4 separate regions of the Homo sapiens genome follow, and all the other regions are reported to be linked to region 3. Evidence: microRNA targets listed by miRTarBase, many of them from high-throughput screens and not tested one by one. Region 3 holds a microRNA gene; each other region holds the end of a gene's coding sequence.
Evidence for each region. The annotated mature microRNA hsa-miR-4537 reads UGAGCCGAGCUGAGCUUAGCUG and lies in region 3 at 2,418-2,439, opposite strand. An mRNA with a match to its seed (bases 2 to 7 or 8) in the 3' UTR can be bound and repressed. Matches are read on the target gene's strand: a 7mer-m8 pairs with bases 2 to 8, a 7mer-A1 pairs with bases 2 to 7 and ends in A, and an 8mer does both.

Region 1 (4,517 bases), not on the chromosome of region 3:
CTGTAATCCCAGCTACTCCGGAGGCTGAGGCAGGACAATCGCTTGAACCAGGGAGTCGGAGGATTCGGTAAGCTGAGATAGCGCCACAGCACTCCAGCCTGGCAACGGAGTGAGACTCCATCTCAGAAACAAAACAAAAAACCAAAAAAGCCATTACGGCCAAAATTTAGGCTGACTGTTCTAGGGCTGGCTGACTTCCAAGGTTCCTGGTCCAGCTTCCTTCTTCTTAGATTAAGTTCTGACTTAGAGTGTGTTCTAAGGAGGCAGGGGAGGAAATGGGAAGGGAAGGCCTCTTTTCAGTGGCCTCTCCCCAGATGACTCACTATAGTAGGAACTTCGGGGCAGAAGTCACACCACAGGCCTGGAGGATGGGAGGATAGGAGACACTTCCAGAAGCCACACTGACATAAGAACAGAATCTTCTCTTGGGAAGGCCAAGGGAAGTCAGCCACATAATTCCCTTTCCAGTGTGCCTTGATAAAACGTAAAACATGAATGAAGACACTCTCACCATTAGATTCTTCTGTTAGTTGATCTCAGGAAACAGAAACAAATGAAATCTGACAGTAACTTTCTGTAGCATCTTCAGGGAAAGCTGTCTCTTCACCAGGATGCATCCCCACCCTGGCCAGCTGAGTGACTCACTGTTCCCAAGAAGAGTAAGGACAGCATGAGACAGCCAAAGGCCTGCAGTGTGTTCAAGTCAATACCTGCTCACTCAACATTAGCTCACTGGTCACCCTAGAATTCTCCTAGCTTTGAAGGATGCACTAACACAGAACTGCAGCTGGGGGTGGTAGCCCGGGGAAGATCGCTTTCCCGGGGGTGATCCCAAGCCTATGGAGTGCATGGCTCCCCTGCCGGTGCTTCTTGCTAACGGGCTTGTCTAGGGACAACAGCAACAGCAATGGAAGTCCAACATGCACCCAGGTGAAGGCCTCACAGAGCTCCCCATCTGTGGGAGAAGCTCCATTGTGAACAGTTCGTCTTGTTCTTAATAGTTTGCCCAGACAGCTCACCTTCAGTACCCCAGAGCCTCCAGCCTGGCAGTCCGGGCTCCAGGTACCTCTAGAGGGCTGTGGCGCACACTATGCATAAGTCACAGGGACACTGGCATGAACTGGTAAGTCCAGATGACAGTGACCCAGCTGCTATAACTGTTAGCAAGTACCTGAAGCCTTAGCCTTGGCAAAACCCCCTACCCTCTACTTCTATTACTGTTGGTGGGCTACACATCAGGAGAGTAGACACAGGCCAGAGTCCATCATCCACTCACATCCACAGAAGGGTCATTGTTTCTTTTCTTGACCATTTCTCAGCCAGTTGACTGACCTATAAGGCCAGGAACCAGGGGTGCCCCAGGCCCTGTTTTGTTTTGCCAAATGAGGGACTTAATGAGTGCGGCCAGTTCAGACTTTGCTGGCCTTGGCACTTAGAAAAACTTGCTCGGGGCCCTGCCTGGGGCTCTCAAGAGCCAGTCATTGGAAAATGCTCCAAGTAAGATGATGAAAGACATTCTTGTAATAAGTAATTGAAGATACTGGCAGAGCTAACTTTTCTATTCTGACCATTTATAAAGATGACAAATGTTTTGGCCAGGCAGGGTGGCTCACACCTGTAATCCCAGCACTTTGGGAAGCTGAGGCGGGTGGATCATGAGATCAGGAGTTCAAGACCAGCCTGGCCAAGATGGTGAAACCCCATCTCTACTAAAAATACAAAAATAAGCCAGGCGTGGTGGCGGGTGCCTGGAATCCCAGCTACTCAGGAGGCTGAGGCAGAGAATTGCTTGAACCCAGGAGGTGGAGGTTGCAGGGAGCTGAGATCGCGCCACTGCACTGCAGCCTGGGCAACAGAGAGATACTCTGTCTCAAAAAAAAAAAAAAAGACAGATGTTTCAAGAACCAAATTCCTCATCAAACTTCCAAATCTGCAGACAACGAATGGGATTTTCTCTCAATTCAGAAAGAACAGAAATATCAACACAATTAGAACTATAAGGGTGTTTACGCATACTGGGAAGGAGACTGCAGAGAGGAAGGATACCCCACCCGGTCAAACAGTGAACATCCATCCTACCTGCAAACCACACCAGGCACGTCCGTAGGCACCTCCATGTACATGACATTCCTGGCTCTTGATATTAGGCCTCAGCGGCCCCCAGCCCCCAGGGGAACCTGCAGAGACTCTCGGGCCGCTCACTCCGGCTGGCAGTGGCGGGAGGCAGTGTGTGCTGCTCGCACCCTGCGTTTCCAGTTTTAGGAGACTGAAGCATCCCAGACAGCTGTTGACAATCAGGAAGACCCTACAAGCAGGACCGAGGGGACTAAGCAGCTTAGCAGCTTCCCTTGGTGACTTGGCAGGGGGACAATCAGTTGGCTTCTGGAACCCACTGCCTCCAGGAAGGGCAGCAAATAGAAAAAAAAGAAAGAAAACCACAGTATTCAAATATATGTCAGTCAGGTTAGACAAGGAGTAACTTGGATCAACTGATCCACAAACTGACACGCCTTGTACTGAACACCCTTCAGGGAAGACATGTGTCGCTCCGGTCCTGCAGTGCACGTGGACTGTGCAGAGCAGAGGCAAGAGTGGGGGGCGCCGAGGGCAGGCCTTGGTCTACATGGACAGTTTTAGGCACGTGATTTATAATACTTTGTGGACATCTAACAGGTTAATAAAATATATATTACATAAATGTCTCTCCTACTGTACACACTGCTCTCTTGTGCAGCCACTGTGATCTCATGCCCCAAACTCAACCAAAGGAGTGCCACGCTGAACCATGATGCCCGGACCCCTCCCTCTCACACCCAGACTTGTCATCTCCACACTGGAGGAATGAGGCGGGATGGCCAAGAATATTGCTTCTATAAAGCCCATATTCTGCAAAGGTTGATGAATCGCCAAAATACAACATTTAGCCAATGCCTACTAGAGTGGGTACACGCAGCAAATGGACAGAAAGAAAAAAAACAGAGCAAATCCTCCATCTTTTAATGTGATAACTTTCCACACCCTCTCCACGTAGAGGCACAAAGGAGCTTGTCTGGGAAGTTTGTCTGGAGTGTGCAGAAAGGTCAGGCTGGACTGCCTGTCACATCCTGAGACCACACTAAACCTTTATAAGCCATTGTCTCTGACCTGTATTGTAGCCTGAAAAATAAAGCAAAGTGAGTCAAACCTCTGGCTCCCACTTCCTGACCCACTGCTCCCCACACCCATCTTCAAGGACCCCTCCCGCCACAGTCCTGCCTCCTGATGAAGCGCAGAGCTTCCAGAGTGACTGTAGCCTCAGCAGGGCCGGTCCAGACATGGCTGAGTCCTGTGCTGCCCTGGAGGAGGAAGGTTCCTGGGATCCTGCTGCCCCGGGACTCAGGATCCAGCCTCTCAGTGCAGATGGATGGACTGTTCAACTTCACAAACTTCCGGTCCCTTCCCCTCCCCAGCTGCCCTTGTCTAGGAAGGCTCATGCTTTGCTTCAATGAAGCGAGGAGACCACAGAAATACCCATGGCTGTGGGGCTGTGACCAGCAGTGGCTGATTAGGGTGGAAACTGGAAAGCGTCACTGTCTCAGCAGAAGAAAGCAGGACCCCACACAGCCTGGGGAACGGCTGCCCACCCACGCCTCGGTGAAGACCACGGCCCTGGCGAGGCCCCAAGGTGCTTCTGAGAGATGAACGAGACACCTCAGTCATGGCACACTGGGTGGTGTGCTTCCCCTCCAAGTCCTGTCTTTGTTTTACACAGTCATATGAAAGACATAACCCCATTGCCCAAATCAAGCCTGGAGGAGATGCGTTACTATATACATTTTTTTCTTTAAAAAAATTTTTTTTTTTGGTGGTTTTCTTAAAAAAGCCTTTGAGTTGCAGGTCAGGTGAGTTGGTTCTGGAAGTACCGGAAGTTCTGTTGGTATGAGAGAGACTTGTCTACAGGCAGGTAAACCCAAGTTTGCCAAACAAAGGCAGTAACCCCAGCGACCAGCTGCTGCTGCTGCACGGTGAGGAGGAGGAGGACACCATGGACACGAGTGGAGGCTGGATGGGACAACGCAGTGGACATCTGCTAATGCTCTAACACGGGGTTGGTGTCACTTCTGAGAAGAGCGAGGTGAGTGGGGATGCTATACAAGAGGGCTGTACAAACTGGGCACTGGATAGGTAGTTCCTTTGGTGGTCAAGGTGGCTCTACCTGTCCTTGAGCTCTCGTGTCACTCGCTTGGTGATCCGTCCACACATCAGGCCAATCAGGAACAATATACAGATGCTCCCACTGATCACAGAGAGAATGTAGTTCTTAGATGGAGACGTCATTACTTGCATGGCAAGATCAGAGAAGCCATCTGCTGGGGCCACCTAGAATGACACAAGGCAATGTGATTCTCTGAGAGAGCACTGGGCTGGTGGCAGTGCTAGGTCTAACTTATCCCTCTCAGTTCCTAGTTTAATTTATGTCTTTTCTTTTGGAGAGGGAGGGCAGGAGATAAGAAAAATCAACACAGAGCTACAACTCT
Region 2 (4,000 bases), not on the chromosome of region 3:
CATGCTTGGACCTGGGAAGGGAGTAACAGACCTCTAAGCATTCCTTGCTCTCAGTCAGGATAAACCTAATCTTTCCCAAACTATGCTCAAGTCCCTCCATTCCTTGCAGTCAGGGAAGACAACAGCAACTAGTGGAGGGGGAAGGGGATTCTGGTGGGGGTGCTGGCCCCCAGCCTAAGTCTTCCCCACAGGCAATATGTGCTGTGCACCCTGTCCCGTATCACCACGTTCGACTTCAGTGGGGTCACCAAAGCAGACCGCACCACAGCTGAAGTCTGGAAACGCATGAACATCAAGCCCAAGAAGGCCTGGACCAAGCAGAATACACTTTGAGGCTCCCACGACCCTAGTAGTCCTAAAGGCCTAAGCATAGACAGCATGGTTTGACAATAAATAATTTGAGCTGTTGAGCAGATGAGAAGTCACTTACACCTTGTAGAGATGTTCTCTAACTCAGGCAACTGCAAGTAGCTCTAGCCTTTTCTTTTCTTTTTTTTTTTTTTGAGACGGAGTCTCACTCTGTCACACAGGCTGGAGTGCAGTGGCACGATCTTGGCTCACTGCAACCTCAGCCTCCCAGGTTCAAGAGATTCTCCTGCCTCAGCCTCCCCAGTAGCTGTGATTAAAGGCGCCTGCCACCATGACTGGCTAATTTTGTTGTTGTTGTTGTTGTTTTGAGACGGTTTCACTCGTCACCCCAGCTGGAGTGCAGTGGTGCGATCTCAGCTCACTGCAACCTCCGCCTGCTGGGTTCAAGCGATTCTCCTGCCTCAGCCTCCTGAGTAGCTGGGATTACAGGCGCCTGCTACCACATCCAGCTAATTTTTTTTTTTGAGACGGAGTCTCGCTCTGTCACCCAGGCTGGAGTGCAGTGGCACGATCTCGGCTCACTGCAAACTCCGCCTTCCAGGTTCACGCCATTCTCCTGCCTCAGCCTCCCAAGTAGCTGGGACTATAGGCACCTACTACCACGCCTGGCTAATTTTTTGTATTTTTAGTAGAGACGGGGTTTCACCATGTTAGCCAGGATGGTCTCCATCTCCTGACCTTGTGATCCACCCACCTCGGCTTCCCCCAGCTAATTTTTTATATTTTAGTAGAGACAAGGTTTCGCCATGTTGGCCAGGCTGGTCTTGAACTCCTGACCTCAGGTGATCCGTCTGCTTTGGCCTCCCAAAGTGCTGGGATTAGAAGCGTGAGCCACCACGCCCAGCCTTTTTTTGTATTTTTAGTAGAGATGGGGTTTCGCCATGTTGGCCAGGCTGGTCTCAAACTCCTGACCTCAGGTGATCTGCCCACCTCAGCCTCCCAAAGTGCTAGGATTACAGGATAAGCCACTGCACCTGGCCAGCTCTAGTCTTATTTTGCTGAAAAAGGGAGGCAATTGAGGGAAAGGCCTGCTGGCCTGGGACACTGGAGACGTGGGTTTACCACACAGCCTTGGGAAATTTATCTAACTCTCTGGGCCCCTTTGTACTTTTCAGCTTAGAGATTTGGGGGTTAAAGTAGATCAGTAATTTCCAAACTCTTCACAGAGTACCAGGGTCTGTAGAGATGCCTCACAGGCCTCCATGACAGGCCAAGAAGATGGCCTATGATCTCTGAAACCAGCCCCCACTTCAATCAGATCAAAGTAATTCCATTCTGTTTTATATGCTGGGATTCTGCTTAAGATTTCATTTGATAAAAAGAATCTTCTGCTTAAAAACATTTGCTTGCTGACTCCATATTAGGTATTCCCAGAAGAGCCTGGTCTGCTTTCTCTCTCCACCCCCCAACCCGCCATGTCTCCCTTCACCCCCAGGGGCTGTTGGTAATTCCATTGAGTCTGAGGCAGGGCCCCCAAGAATCAAAGCTGCCTCAGATTCAGGTCTGTTCAGCTTTGACAGTGTTCCCATCATCACTGGACAAGGGACAAGAACAGTCTCATCCAGTCTGAGGTTAGCCCAAGCCAGGTCTCAGCTAAGAGCTGACACCCTAAACCCTTGTCTCTTGGGTTCATCTTCAATATCCCTGGAAGATGTCCCCTTCCCCCCATCTTACTCTCATAGACCTAAGTAATCAAAAGTAGAATGGGTAGAACAGAGGGGCCAGAACCAGCACATGGATGAATATACTTCCTTTATCGAGGGTGACAAACCAAAACAAAAAAAGACCAAACATGTAAAAACCCAGGGTTCTAGAAATACAAACTCAATTCATTCAAATTCAAGCTCATCCAGACCCTGGTCACAAACCCTAGTGAGGTGCATGTGAGCACCAAGTCAGGGAGAGGGGGCAGGAGTGACTCTGAGGCCAACAGAGAGGGTGGGAAGGGGATCTCCCTAGGTCCCCTGGTGATCACCCCCCACCCAAACTGGTATCTCCACATTCTCAATGACTATGAAGACATACCAGGCTCTGTCCTTTTGGCCCCCACCCCATCCCTGGCCAGAGCTTCAAAGGCCAGTCCCAAAAGGTTCTACCCTCACTTGCTCAGGCTTCTAGCCTTCCTCTTCTCCTCCTTCTTCACATTTTTCTCTGTGATTAGTAGCAGGTTAGGGTACTGTATAAGCCGCAGTGAGGCTGGGGGCCAAGGGGGTGGGGTAGAGATGGGATGAAGAGAGGAGAAGAGCTGTCCAAGGACCCCTCTCTTCATGGGATCCCAAACTGTACAACCAGCTCCTCTTTTGCGTCCACACGGATCTGAGAAAGTGCACTGTAGGCATAAGCAGCTATCCTGGAGACCTGAGACAGAGAGGGGCCGGGGAGGAGAGGAACAGAGACAGGTGAGGAGGGCAATCAGGAAAAATGGGGAGGGGAGATTAGATGGTGATGGAGAAGGAGGGAATGAAGGGGAACAGGAAGGCAAAGAGAAAGACAGGGATGGGAGAGACAGAAGGAAAAGAACAAAGGGGAGTGAAACAATAAAGGTTGCAGGAAGGAGATAGGAAAGACATAAAAAGTTAAGAGAACGAGGTGGGAGGGAGCTGGGGCCTACAAGGCTACCAGGCTCCCTAACTCCACCTTCCCTACCTCCTCTGAGGCAGAGTGGGTGAACCCTCTGCCATACCCTGGGCAGTGTGAGAAGGGTGGGCAGGGGCAGGTGAGGGGTGTCTCACCTGCTGCAAATCAGAGAACGGGATGGGCTCACTGGCCAGCACTTGGTGGGGCTGGCTGGTAAGAGACGGCAGCGGTGGCAGCTTCTTCCAATGGGTCAGGCTGCTGCTCAGCACAGCCAAGCGGGTGCTGACCAAGAGAGAGGGGGTGGGGGTAGGCAGTTAAGCCACAGTCTGCCCTGCCCAGCCCAGGTAAGCCTCATCCCCTCAGGCCAGAGAAGCAGGGTGTCGAGGAGGGGTATCTGGGAGGGAAGGTCTCAGCTCATCACAGACTCAATCTAGGCCCATCTCCCTTGGCCTCAGCGCCCTCAAGAGTGTCACAGGGTAAACAGGGCTGACATGAATAACTACTGAAGCACCCAAGTGATCTGTGGTCAGTCTCCAGGGCTGCACCAAATGAGAAGCTTGGACTAGGGGCCAGGCTCCAAAGCTGGAACAGTGATGGAGGGTGGGAGCCCAAGTAGCCTGAGGGACCCACGCTGGCCAGGTGCTCACCTGTACTGCCTGGCACGGTCCATGTACTCATGCTGCTCCATGCCCTGTGAGTCTGCAGCAGACACATCAATGATGTTGCTATGGGGAGAGGAGACAGAGATGACATGACAGGTGCTTCCGAGAAGGACAAACAGGACTCAGTGCCAGGTACCAACTCCAGGGCTATCTGACACCAGTTTCCCTCCTGCCTACTGGAGCAGGGCTGGACATGGAGGCACCTCTCCCCAGTGACCTTGTCCCATCCCCCATGTCCTGAGCCTGGCTCCTTCTATCCTAGCCTTTAATATGGATAGAGGAGCTCTGACCCAGGCCTGGTCCTCTGACACTTACCTGGCTGTCTTGGCAAGGATGGAAGAGAGCAGGGCCTGCTCATCAGTGCGAGCGGAAGGCAGGCTGTGGTAGTTGGG
Region 3 (4,572 bases):
CCACCTAAGACCATCTCAGCTCAGCCCAGCCCAGCTAAGCCCAGTATAGCCCAGCCCAGCTAAGCCCAGTATAGCCCAGCCCAGCTAAGCCCAGTATAGCCCAGCCCAGCTAAGCCCAGTTTAGCCCAGCCCAGCTAAGCCCAGTATAGCCCAGCCCAGCTAAGCATAGTTCAGCACAGCCCAGCTCAGCTCAGCACAGTTCAACCCAGCTCAGCCCAGCTCAGTGCAGCACAGCCCAGCTTAGCCCAGCCCAGCCCAGCTCAATCCAGCCTGGCTCAGCCCAGCCCAGCCCAGTTTGGCTCAACCCAGCTTGGCTCAGCCCAGGTCAGCCTGGCTCAACTCAGCCCAGCCCAGCCCAGCTCTGCTCAACCCAGCTCTGCTCAACTCAGCCCGGCTCAGCCCAGCTCAGCCCAGTTCAGCTCAGCCCTGCTCAGCACAGCACAGCAGAGCTCAGCTCAGCCCAGCTCAGCTCAGTTCAGCTCAGCCCTGTTCAGCACAGCACAGCAGAGCCCAGCCCAGCCCAGCCCAGCTCATCCCAGCTCAGCCCAGCCCAGCCTAGCTTAGCTCAACCCAGCTCAGCACAGTTCAGCTCAGCCCTGCTCAGCACAGCACAGCAGAGCCCAGCTCAGCCCAGCTCAGCTCAGTTCAGCTCAGCCCTGTTCAGCACAGCACAGCAGAGCCCAGCCCAGCCCAGCTCAACCTAGCCTGGCTCAGCCCAGCCCAGCCCAGCCCGGATCGGCTCAACCCAGCTTAGCTCAGCCCAGGTCAGCCCAGCTTAACTCAGCCCAGGTCAGCCCAGCTTAACTCAGCCCAGCCCAGCCCAGCTCAGCCCCCAGCTCTGCTCAACCCAGCCCAGCTCAGCTCAGCTCCGCTCAGCCCAGTTCAGCCCAGCTCAGCCCAGCCCAGCCTAGCTTGGCTCAACACAGCTCAGCTCAGCCAGCCCAGACCAGCTCAGCTCAGCCCAGTCCAGCTCAGCTCAGCCCAACCCAGTCCGGCTCAGCCCAGCCCAACCCAGCCCAGCCCAACCCAGCTCGGCTTAACCCAGCTCGGCTCAGCCCAGATCAGTCTGGCTCAACTCAGCCCAGCCCAGCTCAACCCAGCCCAGTTCAGCCCAGCTCATCCAAGCTCAGCTCAGCCCAGCCCAGTTCAGCCCAGCCCAGTTCAGCTCAGCTCAGCCCAGCCCAGTTCAGCCCAGCCCAGTTCAGCTCAGCTCAGCTGAGCCCAGCCCAGCCCAGTCCGGCTCAGCTCAGCCCCGCCCCACTCAGCCCAGCTCAGCTCAGCCCAGCTCAGCCCAGCTCAGCTTAGCCCAGCTCAGTTCAGCCAGGCACAATCTGGCTCAGCCCAGCCCAGCCCAGCTCAGCCCAGCCCAGCCTAGCTCAGCACAGCCCAGTTCAGCTCAGCTCAGCTTAACTCAGCTCAGCTCAGCTCAGCCCAGCCCAGCCCAGGTCAGCTCAGCCCAGCCCAGCCCAGCCCAGATCATCCCAGCTCAGCTCAGCTCAGCTCGGCTTAGCCCAGCTCAACCTGGCCCAGCCTGGTCCAGGTCAGCCCAGCCTGGACCACCCAGCCCAGCTCAGCTCAGCCCAGCTCATCCTGGTTCAGCTCAGCTCAACCCGGCTCAGCCCAGGTCTGCTCAACCCAGCCCAAATCAGCTCAGCCCAGCCCAGGTCATCCCAGCTCAGCCCAGCACAGCCTACTTCAGCTCAGCTCAGCTCAGCCTAGGTCAGCTCAGTTGAGGTCAGCTCAACTCAGCCCAATCCAGCCTGGCTCAGCCCAGCTCACCCTAGCTCAGCTTAGCTCAGCCCAACTCAACCCAGCCCAGCCTTGCCCAACCCAGCTCAGCTCAGCCCAGCCCAGGTTAGCCCAGCCCAGCCTCGGCTTAGCTCTGCTCAGCTCGGCCCTGCTCGCCTCAGCCCGTTCAGCCCAGTTCAGCTCAGCTCAGCTCAGCCCAGCTCAGCCCAGCCCTGGTTAGCTCAGCCCAGCTAAGCTCAGCTCGGCTCGGCTCTGCTGAGCTTGGCCCAGCTTGGCTTAGCCTGATACAACCTGCTCAGCCCAGTTCAGCTCGGCTCAGCCCAGCCCAGCCCAGCGTAGCTCAGCTCAGCTGAGCCCAGCCCAGGTTAGCTCAGCCCCAGTCCAGGTCAGCTCAACTCAGCCCAAACCAGCCTGGCTCGGCCCAGCTCACCCTAGTTCAGCTTAGCTCAGCCCAGCCCAGCCCTGCCCAACCCAGCTCAGCTCAGCCCAGCCCAGGTTAGCCCAGCCCAGCCTCGGCTTAGCTCTGCTCAGCTCGGCCCAGCCCAGGTTAGCCCAGCCCAGCCTCGGCTTAGCTCTGCTCAGCTCGGCCCTGCTCGCCTCAGCCCGTTCAGCCCAGTTCAGCTCAGCTCAGCTCAGCCCAGCTCAGCCCAGCCCTGGTTAGCTCAGCCCAGCTAAGCTCAGCTCGGCTCAGCTCTGCTGAGCTCGGCCCAGCTTGGCTCAGCCCGACACAGCCTGCTCAGCCCAGTTCAGCTCGGCTCAGCCCAGCCCAGCCCAGCGTAGCTCAGCTCAGCTGAGCCCAGCCCAGGTTAGCTCAGCCCCAGCCCAGGTTAGCTCAGCCCAGCTCAGCTCTGCCCAGGTTAGCTCAGCCCCAGTCCAGGTTAGCTCAGCCCAGCTCAGCCCTGCCCAGGTTAGCTCAGCCCAGCTAAGCTCAACTTGGCTCAGCTCAGCCTAGCTTGGCTCAGCCCAGCACAGCACGCTCAACCCGGTTCAGCTTGGCTCAGCCCAGCCCAGCCCAGCCTAGCTCAGCTCAGCCCCGCTCAGCCCAGCCTAGCTCAGCTCAGCCCCGCTCAGCCCCGCTCAGCCCAGCCCAGCCCAGCCTAGCTCAGCCCAGCTCAGCCCAGCCTAGCCCAGCTCAGCCCAGCCCAGCTCAGCGCAGCCCAGCCCAGCTCAGCGCAGCCCAGCTCAGCTCAGCTCAGCCTAGCCTTGCTCAGCCCAGCTCAGCTCAGCCCAGCTCAGCCTAGCCTTGCTCAGCCCAGCTCAGCCCAGCTCAGCCCAGCTCAGCCCAGCCCAGCCTAGCTCAGCTCAGCCCCGCTCAGACCCGCTCAGCCCAGCCCAGCCCAGCCCAGCTCAGCCCAGCCCAGCTCAGCTCAGCCCAGCCCTGCCCAGCTCAGCCCAGCTCAGCCCAGCTTAGTGCAGCCAAGCCCAGCTCAGCTCAGCTCACCTGGTGCAACTTAGCCCAGCTCAGCTCAGCTCAGCTCAACCCAGTTCAACTCAGCCCAGTTCAGCTCAGCTCAGCCCAGTTCAGCCTTGTTTAGTCTAGGTCAGCTTAGGTCAGTTTTGCCCATCTGAGTCCATTTCTGAAAGCTGGATGGAGTTGTCATGGCCAGAAATGGTCAGCCCACCAGACCTGCTTGTCTCAGCTAAAGCCATCTCATTGCCGGGTTCCTGCACAGCCAGGCTGGCTTCCATCTTTTGTCTCCCTCTACTTGATACCCCAGTTCCCTGCAGTCCTGCCCCAGCGCCACCTGGGTTTTGGTTCCAAAGCATTACCAATCATTACCACCCTCCACTACCTGGGTGGAATATTTCTTTGCTGCTTTAAAGTCATTAAAACATCTTGAGAATGAGACCAAGAATTTAGGAGCCTGTGCTGTGATAAAAATGAGCAGGTCCCCTTGCTCTAGAAGTGGCAGCATATCTTCTGCACCAAGAGGAGGGTATTGAGATGCTCAGAGCCTCCACCTTCCCGGAGCATCCCCTCCCTTCTGAGTCTGCAGTAAACCCCTGCCTTTAAATTCCCTCTAGATAACAGTCATCATTGGAAACAACCAAGAAATGCATTTTATCTGAATTTGCCACTTAAAATTCTGCCATTTACCATAAATCGCTTTGGAAGGCATGGGCTACTTTCAAGGGTGCGATGATGACCTACAGTCAATGACTTAGACAAGGGCGATGCCAGTGGGGCTTGGTATGTTCTCAAGCATCATTACCCATGCCATCCCCATTCAGAGGTTGTGGAGCAGCTCGTGCGACCTCTCCTTCAAATGGGCTTTAGGGAAAGTTAAATGGGAGTGACCCAGACAATGGTCACTCAAAAGACTCACATAAATGAGTCTCCTGCTCTTCATCAAGCAATTAAGACCAGTTCCCCTTCTAGTGGAAATAAGACGTCAAATACAAAGTTTTAAGAGAAGCAAATGCAGCAGCGGCGGCTGCCTGTCTCTTACCATGTCGGGCGCCTGGTCACTGCGAGCCTTGCAAAGCTTTGGCATGGAATCATTCCTCCAAGTCCATTAACAAGGGCTGGGGCCTGAGCAGCCAGTCGGCCCGGCAGCAGAAGCCACGCATCCCAGCTCTGGGTAGTCCGGGGAGACCCAAAGCCCAGGCCGGGCCTGGCAGCCACCCTCCCAGAGCCTCCGCTAGGCCAGTCCTGCTGACGCCGCATCGGTGATTCGGAACAGAATCTGTCCTTCTAAGGTGTCTCCACAGTCCTGTCTTCAGCACTATCTGATTGAGTTTTCTCTTATGCCACCAACTAACATGCTTAACTGAAATAATTCAGGATAATGATGCACATTTTACCTAAAACTTATCCTAAAG
Region 4 (4,497 bases), not on the chromosome of region 3:
GAGTCTGTAATCTTAATTTCCTCTTTAGTATTCCTATAACCCACTCTCCATCTCCCCACCTACCAGGTCTGCCAGTGAGGAGCAGGCCTTGTCACAGGATGGGTCTGGGGAGAAGCCCATGCACACAGCTCCTCCACAGGCCCCGGCCCCGCCAGCCCAGTCCTGGACAGTGGGTGGGGACATACTCAACGCCAGGTTCATTCGAAACCTGCAGGAACGTCGCAGCACCAGGCCTTGGTGACCGCAGCCCCGTCAAACATCTTCAAAGTATTATTTCTCCCTCACTACAGGAAAGAGCCAAAGCCCAACCCTCATAATAGATGGATACATTCATTCATTCATTCATTCAGCAGGCTTATCAGATTCAAGTCATTTGTATCTTTTAACCAGACCAATAAAAGTATTTATTTTTATCACAAGAGCTGTTGAAAAATTTGACTCATTATTTCAGCCGCCTCACCCCTCACTGTCGTTGCACCCATTCAGCCTTCAGCCCTGTTTTTGCTCAGCTTTTTGCTCAAAGGCCTCAGCTGTGAATACAGCGCTTGGGGGGGCGGGGGAGGCTGTAACTTGCGCAAGCGCACTCAGGCAGTCTCCGAGCCCGCGGGCGCAGGCGCGCTTACAGCCGACAGAGCGCTTCAGCCGCTTCCCTCGAGCCTGCAGTGCGCAAGCGCGGGACATCTCCGTTTCCCTCCCTCAGCCCCTTCCCCCCCTACCCCCCCGCCCCGGCCTCCTTTCCCCTTCACGAAGCCGGCTCTGGGGCGCGCTCACCCCTGTGAGGAGGCCGGAGGTCGGACTCAGGAGGCTCCTTCTCCACTCCCGGAAGATCATGTACCAGCCCAGCCGGGGTGCGGCCCGGCGTCTCGGCCCTTGCCTGCGCGCCTACCAGGCTCGACCCCAGGTGAGCGGAGGAGAAGAGGGAGGGAGGAGAGGGGGCGGGGAGAGACCCTCCTCAAAGCCGGTGCGTGGGGCGGAGCGCGCGCTGGGTTCCGCGCAGGCGCAGAGACACCCGCCGCCCCTTCCCACCTGTGCCCTGCAGCGCGTGGACAGGCTAGGGGTCGCGGGAGCGGGAGGGAGGCGCTGCCGGGCCTGTCGCGCAAGGACGTCGGTCCTCCCAGGTTTGAGGGCGGTCAGGCGGGGTCAAGGCCAGGCAGCGGGGCGCGTCTGCGTTGCGCCCGACTCTCCGCGGTTACCTGTGCCTAGAGGTGATTTGAAGGGCAGGGGCCGAGAGATTCGTAGCCCTGCTGCGGCGCCGTCCCGGAGTTCCCCGGCCCAGACCAGACCCGCGGGGCGCCCTCAGCAGCCCGCCCGTCTTGCACTCGGAGAGCGGTCCTGGCAGGAAGGCCGGCCAGTGTGCACCCGGTTCGGGCCCCTGCGCCCGGGCTGGCAAGATGGCCACGCCCCCAGCAGAGACGGCGCCTCTAGGACACCATCGGGGACCGAGGTACCCGAGCGGTCCGCCCGCCTTCCCTGCAGTGAGACGATCCCCTGGGGGGTTCCTTGGGAGCGGAGGGACTCGGGTGAGGCCTAACTTTGGGTGACCTCCCCTTGCAGTTTCAACGTCGGTAAACCCAGGAGAGTGAAGGCCAGCCTTTAACTGTCTCCTGAGGTTGTGTCTGTCATTAGAGGGGCCCGAAATGATAATAGCTTCCATTTATGTACTGCTTTCTAGGTCGCTACGTTTTGTTTACATTCATTATTTCATATAGGCCTCATAACCCAGTGAGGCTTTATTGTTCTCATTTATAGGACATTTGTAGGAAGCGGAGGCATAGGGAATGAGAATGCCTAAAGTTACATGATAGAATTCAGATTCCTAGCTTCAGCTGGATATTCTTTTTTCTCTGTACATTTGCCTCGCACACTTAATCATGGAGATGTACAGGCCACAGCATTTAATCCACAGTACAATAAAACCTGTTATTCGTTAACTCATCAAGTATGTATTACATGATTCTTGCGATAAGAGAGGTGAAACTGCCCCCAGTGTTGGAATCTTTTTTTTTTTTTTTTTGAAATGGAGTCTTGCTCCGTCACCCAGGCTGAAGTGCATTGGCACCATCTCGGCTCACTGCAATCTCCGTCTCCTGGGTTCAAGCAATTCTCCTTCCTCAGCCTCCCGAGTAGCTGGGACTACAGGCTCCCGCCACCACACCCGGCTAATTGTTTTGTATCTTTAGTAGAGATGGGGTGTCACCATATTGGCCAGGCTGGTCTCGAACTCCTAGACCTCGTGATCCGCCCGCCTCGGCTTCCCAAAGTGCTGGGATTACAGGCGTGAGCCACCGCGCCCGGCCACATTTCTTTAAGATTCCAACACTGGGCCGGGCACGGTGGCTCACGCCTGTAATCCCAGCACTTTGGGAGGCCGAGGTGGGCGGATTACCTGAGGTCAGGAGTTCGAGAACAGCCTGGCCAACATGGTGAAACCCCATCTGTAACTAAAAATACAAAAATTAGCCGGGCGTGGTGAAGGGTGCCTGTAATCCCAGCTACTCGGGAGGCTGAGGCAGGAGAATGGCTTGAACCCAGGAGGCGGCGGTTGCAGTGACCCGAGTTCGCGCCAATGCACTCCAGCCTGGGCGACGGTGAGACTTCGTCTCAAAAAAAGAAAAAAAAGTAAAATGTCTGCTAGGTTTTGGGAGGTGCCGGTATTTATGTCACATAAAACAGTTTGCTCGGCTGGGCGCGGTGGCCCACGCCTGTAATCCCAGCACTTTAGGAGGCAGAGGCGGGTGGATCACGAGGTCAAGAGATGAAAACCATCCTGGCTAACATGGTGAAATCCTGTCTCTACTAAAAATACAAAAACTAGCTGGGCATGGTGGCGCGCGCCTGTAGTCCCAGCTACTCAGGAGGCTGAGGCAGGAAAATCACTTGAACCCGGGAGGCGGAGGTTGCAGTGAGCTGAGATCGTGCTACTGCACTCCAGCCTGGCAACAGAGCGAGACTCCATCTCAAAATAAATAATAAAATAAAATGGTTTCCTCCTGTTTTCAGTAGAGATGGAGATGAATCCATCCCTTTTTTCCTATAGTAATTCCATCCATTCTGTCAGGAGGAATAGGTATTGGAAGCCTGTTGAGCATCCAGGGGATCAAGGGGTGTTAGACAAGTGGATTCTTATCTTTCTCCCTTCTGTTCTTTCTCCTTAGGACCAGCTTTATCCAGGGACTCTACCATTCCCACCCCTTTGGCCCCACTCCACGACAACCACTTCCCCATCTTCTCCTCTATTCTGGTCTCCCCTGCCCCCACGCCTTCCCACCCAGCGTCTTCCCCAGGTTCCCCCACTACCTCTCCCTCAGATCCAGGCCCTCAGCTCAGCATGGGTGGTTCTCCCTCCAGGAAAGGGGGAGGAGGGACCAGGACCTGAGTTGCATAGCGGCTGCCTGGATGGGCTTAGAAGCCTTTTTGAGGGACCTCCCTGCCCCTATCCTGGGGCTTGGATACCTTTCCAAGTCCCTGGAACTGCCCACCCTTCCCCTGCCACCCCGTCAGGAGATCCTAGTATGGAGGAACATCTGTCTGTCATGTATGAGAGACTGAGACAAGAGGTAAGTCAGTGCAAAAGTGGCCTTCGTCTACAGTGGGAAGGATGTGGGTAATCCTTGGACGTACAGGGATAGTCAACTGGATTCTTTTTTGGAACCATGAGGCAGGCATAGAAATATATTATAAACATTTTCCTGAGAAAATGATGTTCCAGCCAGGCACGGTGGCTCAAAGTGCTGTAATCCCAGCACTTTGGGAGGCTTAGGCAGGTGGATCACCTGAGGTCAGGAGTTCAAGACCAGCCTGGCCAACATGGTGAAACCCCATCTCTACTAAAAACACAAAAATCAGCCAGGCATGGTGGCAGACGCCTATAATCCCAGCTACTCAGGAGGCTGAGGCAGGAGAATCGCTTGAACCCAGGAGGCGCAGTGAAAGGAGATATCTCCATTGTACTCCAGCCTAGGCAACAGAGCGAGACTCCGTCTCAAAAAAAAAAAAAAGAAAGAAAATGATGTTCCTCATTTTGGGTTAAGGGAGGTTAATCATGGGATGAGATCTTTCACTCCAAGATGGGAGTAAGGAGGCCTTAAAAATAGAAAACTGGGCCTGGCACATGGCTCACGCTTATAATCCTAGCACTTTGGGAGGCCGAGGCAGGCGGATCACAAGGTCAGGAGTTCAAGACCAGCCTGGCCAACACAGTGAAACCCCGTCTCTACTAAAAATACAAAAATTAGCTGGGCATGGTGGTGGGTGCCTGTAATCCCAGCTACTCGGGAGGCTGAGGCAGGAGAATCGCTTGAACCTGGGAGGCGGAGGTTGCAGTGAGCCGAGATTGTACCTCTGCACTCCAGCCTGGGCGACAGAGCTAGACTCCATCTCAAGCCTGTAATCCCAGCTACTCGGGAGGCTGAGGCAGGAGAATCGCTTGAACCTAGGAGGCGGAGGTTGCAGTGAGCTGAGATTGTACCTCTGTACTCCAGCCTGGGCGACAGAGCT

Region 1: the mRNA of GLG1 is a reported target of hsa-miR-4537. The part of its 3' UTR that is shown has no 7-base or 8-base seed match.
Region 2: miRTarBase lists LRRC51 as a target of hsa-miR-4537. Seed matches in the 3' UTR shown: 8mer at 883-890.
Region 4: the mRNA of ATAT1 is a reported target of hsa-miR-4537. The part of its 3' UTR that is shown has no 7-base or 8-base seed match.

What each region holds. Positions count from the first base shown.
Region 1 is chr16:74,448,976-74,453,492 of GRCh38, forward strand. It overlaps GLG1 (golgi glycoprotein 1), which reads right to left. Exons shown (of 26, transcript NM_001145667.2): 26 at 1-4,359. The coding sequence ends at 4,192. Among named protein-coding and RNA genes, the nearest start is that of CLEC18B, 30 kb to the left of the region's middle.
Region 2 is chr11:72,095,188-72,099,187 of GRCh38, forward strand. LRRC51 (leucine rich repeat containing 51) reads left to right here. Exons shown (of 6, transcript NM_145309.6): 6 at 192-1,708. The coding sequence ends at 333. All of the region lies in intron 5 of LRTOMT (leucine rich transmembrane and O-methyltransferase domain containing), which reads left to right. It overlaps LAMTOR1 (late endosomal/lysosomal adaptor, MAPK and MTOR activator 1), which reads right to left. Exons shown (of 5, transcript NM_017907.3): 2 at 3,924-4,000; 3 at 3,594-3,671; 4 at 3,102-3,228; 5 at 2,105-2,727. The coding sequence ends at 2,635. Among named protein-coding and RNA genes, the nearest start is that of LAMTOR1, 6.1 kb to the right of the region's middle.
Region 3 is chr14:105,857,115-105,861,686 of GRCh38, forward strand. MIR4537 (microRNA 4537) reads right to left here and starts at 2,439; the gene lies at 2,370-2,439. MIR4539 (microRNA 4539) reads right to left here and starts at 458; the gene lies at 399-458. MIR4507 (microRNA 4507) reads right to left here and starts at 1,061; the gene lies at 1,010-1,061. MIR4538 (microRNA 4538) reads right to left here and starts at 1,128; the gene lies at 1,051-1,128. It also overlaps IGH.
Region 4 is chr6:30,646,403-30,650,899 of GRCh38, forward strand. ATAT1 (alpha tubulin acetyltransferase 1) reads left to right here. Exons shown (of 13, transcript NM_001413067.1): 13 at 67-419. The coding sequence ends at 241. C6orf136 (chromosome 6 open reading frame 136) reads left to right here and starts at 731. Exons shown (of 6, transcript NM_001161376.2): 1 at 731-1,444; 2 at 3,156-3,557. The coding sequence starts at 830.